2 separate regions of the Homo sapiens genome follow, and region 2 is linked to region 1. The links come from fine-mapping of genetic effects on gene expression. Tissue or cell type: whole blood. Region 1 holds a variant in brackets; the other region holds the start of a gene. All regions are shown on one strand. Distances are between the middles of the regions.

Region 1 (5,413 bases):
GAACATTCTCTGCACCAAGGCCGGGGTCGATGTGGGCAGCCTATGCTGGGGCTGGTTCTCAGTGGCGGCCAACGGCTCTGTGTACATCAACCAGAGCAAAGCCATCGACTACGAGGCCTGTGACCTGGTCACGCTGGTTGTGCGGGCCTGTGACCTAGCCACGGACCCCGGCTTCCAGGCCTACAGCAACAATGGTAAGGCAGCCTGTCCTTGCAGGGCTTGGCAGGCCATAGCTTAGGGGCCGCGGGAAGGAGCCCTGGGCTGGAACTCACAAGGTCTGGGCTCAGATCTTGGCTCCAGCCCTTTCCAGCTGCAAATACTGGGAAAGTCCCAAACCCTCTCCAAGCTTCAGTTTCCCCATCTGTCCAGTGGAGTTGGGCAGTGGGGTGGGCTGTGAAGATTCAATGAGAATATGGATGTATGGCATTTATTGCAGTGCCTGGCATGCAGTAGCATCAAATTAATGCCATTATTTTACAAGATGCTGTGAAAGAAAGATAACACTGCAGAGCTAGATGTGTGCTTGTATCCCACTTCTGACACCAAATAGCAATAATAATCACATTAACAACTAGCATATATTGAGTCCTTATGACAGCCAAGAACTACACCAGGCACCTTGTAAGAATTTTTCCACTTCCACACAACCCATGGGGTAGGTGTTCCCTATCCAATTTTATAGATGAGGAAACTGAGGCAGAAAGTGGGTATTTAAACAACCAGCTTATATAGTTAGAATGTGTCAGTATAATGTCATAGGTGAGATCTACCTAGGCTGGGCCCAATCCTGGCCCACCACTATTGCTGTGTGACTTTGACAAGCTGCTTATCTGCTCTGAGGTCTGGGATGATACTCCCACCCACACAGGCCAGAGAAGACCGATCAGGCATTCTGGGTCAGGAGCAGGGAAGGGGACTGAGCATGGGGGAACACATGGGAGAGAAGCTGCGGGGCATGGGGTTGAGGCTGCGGGGCACGGGGTTGAGGCTGCGGGGCACAGGGTTGAGGCTGCGGGGCACGGGGTTGAGGCTGCGGGGCATGGGGTTGAGGCTGTGGGGCACAGGGTTGAGGCCCAGGCTCTTTGGGTCAAGCTTTTGCCCAGAGCCAAAGCCAGCTGACCTTGTCTCCTAGGAAGCCTCCTCATTACCATTGAGGACGTGAATGACAATGCACCCTATTTTCTGCCTGAGAATAAGACTTTTGGTAAGCAGCAACCCCATTCACACACCATACCCCTGCTCCATAAGGCCGCCTTTGAGCAACCCCGACAGACCCTCCTTGGACCCCAGGGGGAGCCTTTAGAAAGGGGGGAAGGCCTCTAATCCTGCATCTTCCTAGGGCTGCAATAGGAGAGGACATTGGAGTTTTCTTTTTTCTTTCCTTTTTTTCTTGAGACGGAGTCTTGCTCTGTCGCCCAGGCTGGAGCGCAATGGTACGATCTCAGCTCACTGCAACCTCCGCCTCCCAGGTTCAAGCAATTCTCATGCCTTAGCCTCCAGAGTAGCTGGGGCTACAGGCATGCGCCACCACACCTGGCTAATTTTTGTATTTTTAGTAGAGACAGGGTTTCATTGTGTTGGCCAGACTGGTCTTGAACTCCTGGCCTCAAGTGATCTGCTCGCCTTGGCCTCCCAAAGTGCTGGGATTATAGGCATGAGCCACCATGCCCAGCCAACACTGGAGTTTTCATTCCAGCTCTGTCCGACCTAATGTCTGGCCCTGGGCCAGGACTTCCCTCTCTGGGCCTCCATTTCCGCATGGTCCTGTGGGCCTGTGACCTCACCTGTGACAATGGGAGGTGGATGACTTGCTAACTACTGGCCCAGTGGTGGCTGTAATAGGGGTCTCTTTTGGTAGAGAGGTTGAGGGCAGGTTTAGGGGGATGAGCCCTGAGCTGGGCTCGTGACCAGCCTTGGTCCAGGTGGGCAGTGTCCCGACCCCGCTGACCCCGTTCCCGTTCACACCTGCAGTGATCATCCCTGAACTCGTGCTGCCCAACCGGGAGGTGGCTTCTGTCCGGGTAAGTTCTTGGCTCCAGCCTTTGTTGGTCATATGAGCCCCAGGGGACACAGGGCTGAGGCCTTCAGGCCTTCCATGGTAGAAAGAAAATATATGGGCTCCAACACATGAAAAAGAAAACCCCAGAAGGGAAACCAACACCTGTCTAATCAATGTAATCAAACTTCACTGTGATAAATGTAGCATTCATAAAAATGTCATGACCGTAAATACCACTTGCAGTCCAGATATTTCTTACTATACCAGAATTCTTGAGTAATACAGAGAACTCATAGCTAATTGTAAATTAAGCCAGTGCCTTGTCATTAAATAATTCTCAGAGCCAGCTGGGCACGGTGGCTCAAGCCTGTAATCCCAGCACTTTGGGAGGCCAAGGCAGGTGGATCACCTGAGGTCGGGAGTCTGCGACCAGCCTGACCAACATGCAGAAACCCCATCTCTACTAAAAAATACAAAATTAGCTGGGTGTGGTGGTGCATGCCTGTAATCCCAGCTACTTGGGAGGCTGAGGCAGGAGAGTCACTTGAACTCGAGAGGCGGAGGTTGCGGTGAGTCGAGATCACGCCATTGCACTCCAGCCTGGGCGACAAGAGTGAAACTCTGCCTCAAAAAAAAATAAA[T/A]AAATAAATAAATTATTGGAGCCAAGTCATAAAAAGGCTTTCAGCTGTTTATGGTGTTGGATGTGGCAAGTTTATTAGGGGTGGTGGCCATGCCGTGTGGGGATGAGGCTTCCCACACCACCGAGGGCTGGGCCTGGCTGGGCTTCTTACTGACCTGGAGAGCTGCCTACCCTCTCTGGGACTCCGTTTCCCTGTTCAACAAGAAGCTAGCAGTTCCCAGAAGGTGGCATGTGGGTGCCATTCCCTATGCTTTGGAAAGGACATGGGTACAAGAGATGGACAGGGCTGGCCTTCCCCACTTAGAGCCGAGTGTAAGGACAGGGTCTCTCGGAGCCTCAGCTTCCTCTTGTAAAATGGGGATAGTAATTCTCCCTCTCTAGGTTGACGTTCATGCTAGAGACAGTGACTGTGTGACTTTCAAGTCTTAAGACAGCTTCCCAATCTTCTGCCAATTTGGTTCTAATGTCAAGAGTTTAGCCACGGCAATTTTCTTTAAATAGATTCCTTTTTAAGACCTAAGCACTGGTGTTGGCCTATCCTTAACAGTAACGTTGGTGAACTCGAAGCTCTGTGTGCTGGTTAAATTTTTCTCTAAAAGGCACTAGAATGAATAAAAATGCTTGTGTCCCCTCCCCAACCAGCTTCATGGTCTACTAGGGGAATTGGTACTCCCCGCACGGAAATGAGGGATCCCAGGGGAGGTGCTTAGGAAATCTGAGCATCGCTGTGTGTGTGCACGCCAGTGTGTGTGTGTCTAAGTGTGAATGTGTGTGCCTGAGGGTGTGTATAAGGGTGAGTGAGTGTATGTGAATGTGTGTGACAGTGTGTGGGTATGTAGGTGATTGTGGGTGTGTATGTGTGTGACTGTGCAAGTGTGTGAATGTGTGTGAATTGAGTGTATTTGTGTGAGTGTGTGTGAATTGAGTGTGTGGTGAGTGCATGAGAGAGTGAGGGTGTGAGTGTGTGTGTCAGGATAAGTGTGTGAGTGTGAGAGGGTGTGTGAGTGTATGTGAGTGTGAGAGGATAAGTGTGTGAGGGTGTGTATGAGTGTGTGCATGTGTGTGAGTGTGTTAGGGTGAGTGAGTGTATGTGTGAGTGGGACAGTGTGTGAGAGTGTGTGTGAGGGTGTGTATGAGTGTGTGTGCATATGTGTGTAAGTGTGTGTTAGGGTGAGACTGAGTGTGAGTGGGACAGTGTGTGAGAGTGTGTGTGTGTGAGAGGGTGTGTATGTGAGAGAGACTGTGTGTGTGAGTGTGTGTGTGTGAGAGAGAGAGAGAGTATGGCAGTGGAGGGGTGTAGGGGGAGCAGGGCAGGATTTCCACATGTGAGGGACTTAGGGCAGTGATCTGTTTGGAGTTGGGGAACAGGGGCAGGTTCTTGTCCAAATCTGGATTTGCAGAGCAGACACACTGTTTTTTGAAACCATTTGCTTATTCGGGGCAGCGTGGGGATGGCGGATAGAGACGGTGAGGGCCAGCCTCCCAGGCCACCCTTGCCTCTGATCCCTGCTGGGGTGGAGGGATGCCTGGCCTGGCTGGGCCCCCAGATATTGTCCACTCTTGCTCCCAGGCCAGAGACGATGATTCAGGGAACAATGGCGTCATCCTGTTCTCCATCCTCCGAGTAGACTTCATCTCTAAGGACGGGGCCACCATCCCTTTCCAGGGTGTCTTCTCGATCTTCACCTCCTCCGAGGCCGACGTGTTCGCTGGGAGCATTCAGTAACTGCGGGCGGCCCCGGGAGGGAGGTTGCGGGGAGGGGCCCGATAGGAGCTTTCAGGCAGCAAGTCCCCCATCCTGGAGGTTACAAGGGTCCTGAGGATTCAGCTTGGGTTCCAAGACTGACCTGCGCCTCCCGCCTTCCGCAGGCCGGTGACCAGCCTCGACTCCACTCTCCAAGGCACCTACCAAGTGACAGTCCAGGCCAGGGACAGACCTTCCTTGGGTCCTTTCCTGGAAGCCACCACCACCCTGAATGTGAGTGCTGGTCCCACCTCCAGCCCCCAACGCCCTCTGCCAGCCCCCAGGGTCCCTGGTGCCTCATCTCCTGCACACCCCCTTCCCAGCTCTTCACCGTGGACCAGAGTTACCGCTCGCGGCTGCAGTTCTCCACACCGAAGGAGGAGGTGGGCGCCAACAGACAGGCGATTAATGCGTAGGTCTGGGGAGCCCCGGAGGGAGGGGTAGGAAGAACAGGGTGTAGGAGCCTGGTCCCCGACAAAACCTGGATGGGATGTCTCTCAATCCTGTTCCTGACCCACATTTGACCTTGTCCCTGTCTTCAACCCTGTACTTTCACCTGCACGACGTTCTTGCATGTCCCCAGAAGCCCATACCCAGCCAAGGGCAGAGGGAAGCCTTGGAACAAGGCTGCCGTGTACAGTTGTGAAGGCTGTGTGTTGCACAAGGGCACTCTGCTTGCTAAGCTATTCACCCAGCCCCAGAGGAAGGGATTTCCTTTTGTAATTTTCACAGAGATGCTACCTACTCAGCCAACAGAGCTGTCCAGAGGAGGTGCCCTTTCTCACTCATACAATTCTTAATCCCACTGGCACAGCCCTGGCCACAGGCCCAGGCTAAGACCCCAGGCCTCTGTGACATCTGCCTTCTTTGCAGGGCTCTTACCCAGGCAACCAGGACTACAGTATACATTGTGGACATTCAGGACATAGATTCTGCAGCTCGGTGAGTGCCCAGAGGCCTGGGGGTGGGGTTGAGGGGGAGAAGCGGTAGCAGGAGGGGCCTGCTGGGTGATCCAGGCTCCTGACTCTTC
Region 2 (5,000 bases), 59 kb after region 1:
AGCTCTGCTCTCCTCTTTCCCTCCCGCAAAGGGACAAGGGGTTGATCCCTCCCGGACTCCACTGCGTTAATCCCTCAGAGGGGTGGGGGTGGGGAGCTACGGGCCACCTCTCAGCAGAGTTGTGGTTTCTGACTGGAGGAAATGCTCTACAGGAGCCCGGACAGAGTAGGTCAGGCCCAAGCCGCACCTTGGAGGACCTTAAGAGGCGGGAAGAGGGAGAGGGAGAGATTTCTGACCTGGCTCCTTAACTAGGGAAGGGCATCAGAATTGCTTGAGGACACTCATTGATGCCACACCCATCCCTGGAGGGCTGACATTGTGTTTAGAGATCTCCCCAGTGACTTCTGCCCTGCCTGGGAACCATGCAGCCAAGCCTGGGATGTCCCCCTTGCCTGCATTGGGGTCTGCCCCTGAGGCTTCCTTAATCCACCCCGATTTGAATGCTTGTCTTAAGGAACTCAGTAAAAGAGACATGCACATATACAAGGCTATACAAGGTGACCAGTGCTGTCTGTCGGGGGGAGCTGAGTGGCTGGGGGTGGAACCTGCTTGCACTGAGGGAAGGGAGGATAAGAGAATCTGGCCTACTTAGGGCCTCAGCAGAGAGCGGATAAGGCCGGGATGGTGGGTGGGTCCCCATTTCCCTTTGAACACAGGGAGGCAGTTGACTTGCCATCTGCCTTGCAGGATGGCATCCAGCCCATGTGGGAGGACAGCAGGAATAAACGGGGTGGCCGCTGGCTGGTCAGCCTGGCCAAGCAGCAGCGCCACATTGAGCTGGACCGGCTGTGGCTGGAGACGGTGAGTTGGAGGAGGAGGGTCCTCAGGGGAAGAGACGGGCTGTGTGGGTCTCATGGTGGCAGTGGTCTCAAGGATGGCAGGCCAGTCCCTATGTCCCAGCCGGTGATCTCACAACCCCCTACTTCGGGTCCAGCTGCTGTGTCTGATCGGGGAGAGCTTTGAGGAACACAGCAGAGAGGTATGTGGGGCCGTCGTCAACATCCGCACCAAGGGGGACAAGATCGCTGTGTGGACGAGGGAGGCGGAAAACCAGGCGGGCGTGCTGCACGTTGGGTGAGGAGGGTCTCTGGCACAGGGTGGGGACTTGGGTCTCTGCTAGAGGGAAGGTGGGTGGAGGGGGCTTGGCCTGCATGGGAGACCTCTGAAAGTCTCCATAGCCTCCCTCCCTTCTGCCTTGCCCACCTGTATGGAAGGTCTGGCGTTCAGATTTCTAACTTTCTCTTACGGCAGTGCAGCTCTCCTTTTGCATTAAGGGGGTCATATTTTGGGTTTCCACATGGGTAAGACACAACAGGTGTGGCTGTGGCCAGAATGAGGGTAGGAGTCTGGTGGCCTAAGTTATCTCTAGGACCCTCTGATGACTACCTGTGTCTCTTTTCCTCTGTGTCCCCCGCACCTGCAGGCGTGTATACAAAGAGCGCCTGGGCCTCTCCCCAAAGACCATCATTGGGTACCAGGCCCATGCAGACACAGCCACCAAGAGCAACTCCCTAGCCAAGAACAAGTTTGTGGTGTGAGGGGGGCCTTGGCACCCCTCCTATGTAATGGGACAGCCGCCACTGAGCCTCATTACTTTGGGGGATGGGGCGGGACTGGGGATCAGACAGCCTAGTTCTTACCTGTCCTCAAGTGAACAGGAATGCAAACACTCTTTAACATGAGTTGGGGCCTGAGCCTTAGGGGCTAGATGGGGGTAGTGGTGGCAGTCTGAGGACCTAGCTTGTCCTGGGGCCACAGGACAGCAGCAGGGTGGAAAAAACTCCTGAGGGTGGGGTGAGTCATGGCGGGGAAGGAGGGCTCTATGGTAGGCGGAGAAACCCATAGTCCAGCGTTTACTGTTTCCACCCAGGAAGGAGGTGAGGTGGCCTGAGAGACAGACTCTTCCATGGGTGGTGGGCTCAAGGGCACAGACATTCTGGAGGGTGAACGCCATCATTTGTACAGAGGGATACGTGGGTTGCTGAGGACTGAGAGAGCCTTGCAAGGCCGCTCCCCTTCTCCCCAGCTGTGACCAGGGCTGTCTGGGCCTTGCCTGCCTCAGGGCCAGACTGAAGTGGAGGTGGAGGGATGCTGGGCTAGGCCTCACCAAGGTTCTGGTAGAAGTGGTGGAAGTGGATAAACTTGATAATAAAAGCTTAAGCATCTTTCTGTTCCTGTTTTAAATAAATACTTCTGAACAAAGTTGGAATTATTTTTAAGAGGGCTTCAAACTGGAGTAAGATTCAGGTTCCCCCAAACTTTGATCTGCCTCTGTCCTGTCTTACAGGGGCTCATGTGAGATCACTGGGTACCAAGGAGCCTGACCGGGACCCTGGCCAGTATGGAGGACAGGGGGTGTGGCTGGGGAAACTCAGCCACCAAGGGGGCTTGAGCCAGGTTCCGGGGGGCATATGCCCCTGGCAGGGCGCAGCCGGCGTGGCACCAAGGCCCAGGCCCTCGTTTGGCCTGAGTTTGAGTCAGGATAAGTAGAGCTGGATTTCCGCTGGGTGAAGGTGAGCCTGATGCGACTCCACAATGACAAAACGTCCTGCACGTGTTAAAAACTCAATCCGGACCAGCTTCCCCATTCGCCTGCCAGAGCAGCAGTTAACCTTCCCCTGGGATGGGCTCCAACAGCAGGCTGGGGATTGGGATGGCGCTGGTACCCAGCAGGGGAAGCAAGGCTTCTACACCCCGGCGGCCTCCGGCGCCATCAGCCGGCGTCCCGGGCGGGTCTGCAGGACGCTGGGAAACGCGGCGGCGGCCTGCGCGGGGGCGGGGCCTGGCCGAAGGCGGGGCTGCGAGGAGGTCCGAATCAGGCTGTGGGGGCGGAGCTCGGGAAGCGGAGCCAGGTCCAGAGGCGGGGCTCAGGCGGGACTGAGTTGATCTATGGGGGCGGAGCCAGGTCAGGAGGCGGGACTCCAAAGGGACTGAGGGCTGTGGGGGCGGGGCCCGGTCCAGAGGCGGGGACAGCAGGGCTCCGGGCAAGGAGGTCTGGATGCTGAGGGCGGTCCCTGAGGGGCGGGCGGGGCCCGACCGGCGCTCTGTGTGGCCGAGGCCATGAAGCCGCAGCCGCCCGGCTAGGCCCCGGGCGGCTCTAGCCCAGGGCGGCCCGCGGGGCGCTGGGCCTGGCTCCCGGCTCCGGTTTCCGGGCCGGCGGGTGGCCGCTCACCATGCCCGGCAAGCACCAGCATTTCCAGGAACCTGAGGTCGGCTGCTGCGGGAAATACTTCCTGTTTGGCTTCAACATTGTCTTCTGGGTGAGCGCGGGGTCTGCGCCTTGCCCTGTGCTGGGGGGTGGTGGGAGAGGGAGATTCAGTCTTTTGCTGGGGGAGACCACTCCCTGCCCCAAGAGTTTGGAGCTCGGGACCATCCCCCCACTTCTGCCACACCCACGCCCACTTCCAGGACCACCCGAGGTAGCTACAGAGGCCCGGATTGCTGGGGGCGGGTCCTAGCGACAGCGTGGGGTCGGGGTTGGGGTAGGGAGTCTCCCTAAATAATCCCGAGGCCTGGTGGAGAAAGGGAAGGTGTTTCCTTGAAGACCCCAGGGGCGTGCTAGGTGCAGGTTGCCCCCTCTCGCCCAGCCCTCCTTCCTACCCTGGGATGTGGGATGCGTGCCAAGCCCCACCCCTGGTTTAGCCGGTAAGGAGATTCTGGCGTGAAGGGAGCCGCCAGGCCCCTTCCCCGGCCTCCTTTCCCTTCCAGTAGTACCTGGGTCAGGTGCCTCACCTTAGGCTCCTGCAGAGTGGGGTGGGTCACAGTCCTCTGCCCACCCCAGTCCCGCACAAGGAGGCTGACCTGCCAGGAGGGGCAGGGAGGGACAATGGCGAGTCCTTGGCGGCTGGGAGAGGATCTCCCCGGTTGAGAGCCTGGGAGCTGGCCTTGGGGAACAGAATTCAACATTCCACAGCTGACAAGCTGAGGCTCCTGGGCGGGTCTGCCCCTACCGGGGAAGGGAGCTACTAGTGCCCCTCCCAGGGTGGCATCTGTCCCCCTGGGCCCTGCCAGGTCATTTTTCCCATCTCTCCAAAGCCGTGGCCCTCTGCAGTCTCTGCTCCTGAGGCCTTGGGTCAAGATGCCAGGCCTTTTCCCTTGTGTTCAGCAAGACTCAGTGGCACTGCCCCCCACCCACGTGTCACCGAGCTCACTGGTGTGGTGGGTGTCCTTGCACTGCAGCGCTAGGCTCTTGAGGGTGTGGGCAGTGTGTGGGAGCACTGGCAAAGAAGTCAGAAGGCCTGGCTGTAGCAGGCCTGGCTGGGACACCTTGGGCAAGTCATCTCTCCTCTCCGGGCCTCAGCTTGCCTGCCTGGGAGACGACGATAAAGAATCTGCCTGTGAGGGCTGTTAGGCAGATACAATGAGTTCAATTTGTTGTATTCTCACAACTGCCTTATTATCTGCATTTTACAGATGGGGAAACTGAAGGAATAGACACAGAGAAATTAAGTCACTTACCTAGGGTCACACAGCCAGAAAGTACAGAGCCAAGGTGACGGCTTAGTGGGCAGAGGGTGGAGGTGAGGCAGAGCTGTGAGCAGAAGTAACCTCAAATACCGAGGGGGAGCAGGCGTGAGAGACCCGGGTTTGTTGCTGGGGCGGAGCGTGGGGTGTTATGTTAAGGTGGCATGGAGAAGCGAGGGCTTCCAGTGATGGGTCTGATCTGGCTTCTGTTCTGGAGACCGCTTGCCTGGCTGCTGTGTGGAGGGTGGATGAGGGGCAGGGCCTGGAGGTTTGGAATGGGGGCAGGGCTGGGGCAAAGCTGGGATGGTGAGGTGGGAAAGGTGAGGGAGGTTGCTGGGAAAGTCAAGAGGCTGAATTGACTGGGCTGGGTCACTTGGGGGCTGGAGGGAGGATTTCAGATTTGGGTTAAGGTGGCCTAAGGGAGGCTGCTTGTGGAACAGGCACAGAGGTTTTCATGTTTAATGTCAGGCAGACCCTGGTGTTGTTCTGTTTGGAAACTGCTTGTGGTTTCCTTTTTTCTTTTTTCTTTTTTTTTT

What was found. PIP is the estimated chance that this variant, and not a neighbour inherited with it, causes the effect.
Region 2: it holds the start of TSPAN17, and the variant in region 1 is fine-mapped to the expression of TSPAN17 in whole blood (INTERVAL, PIP above 0.99).

The regions. Positions count from the first base shown.
Region 1 is chr5:176,584,822-176,590,234 of GRCh38, forward strand. It overlaps CDHR2 (cadherin related family member 2), which reads left to right. Exons shown (of 32, transcript NM_017675.6): 19 at 1-194; 20 at 1,133-1,204; 21 at 1,972-2,021; 22 at 4,210-4,361; 23 at 4,509-4,617; 24 at 4,707-4,795; 25 at 5,257-5,325. Among named protein-coding and RNA genes, the nearest start is that of GPRIN1, 23 kb to the right of the region's middle. The variant T/A (reference allele first, on the strand shown) is at 2,641.
Region 2 is chr5:176,644,443-176,649,442 of GRCh38, forward strand. TSPAN17 (tetraspanin 17) reads left to right here and starts at 3,042. Exons shown (of 9, transcript NM_130465.5): 1 at 3,042-3,260. The coding sequence starts at 3,174. It overlaps EIF4E1B (eukaryotic translation initiation factor 4E family member 1B), which reads left to right. Exons shown (of 9, transcript NM_001099408.2): 7 at 688-801; 8 at 935-1,074; 9 at 1,424-2,202. The coding sequence ends at 1,538. RefSeq lists enhancers at 1-283, 865-1,375, 1,646-1,940, 4,302-5,000 and a silencer at 2,614-3,273.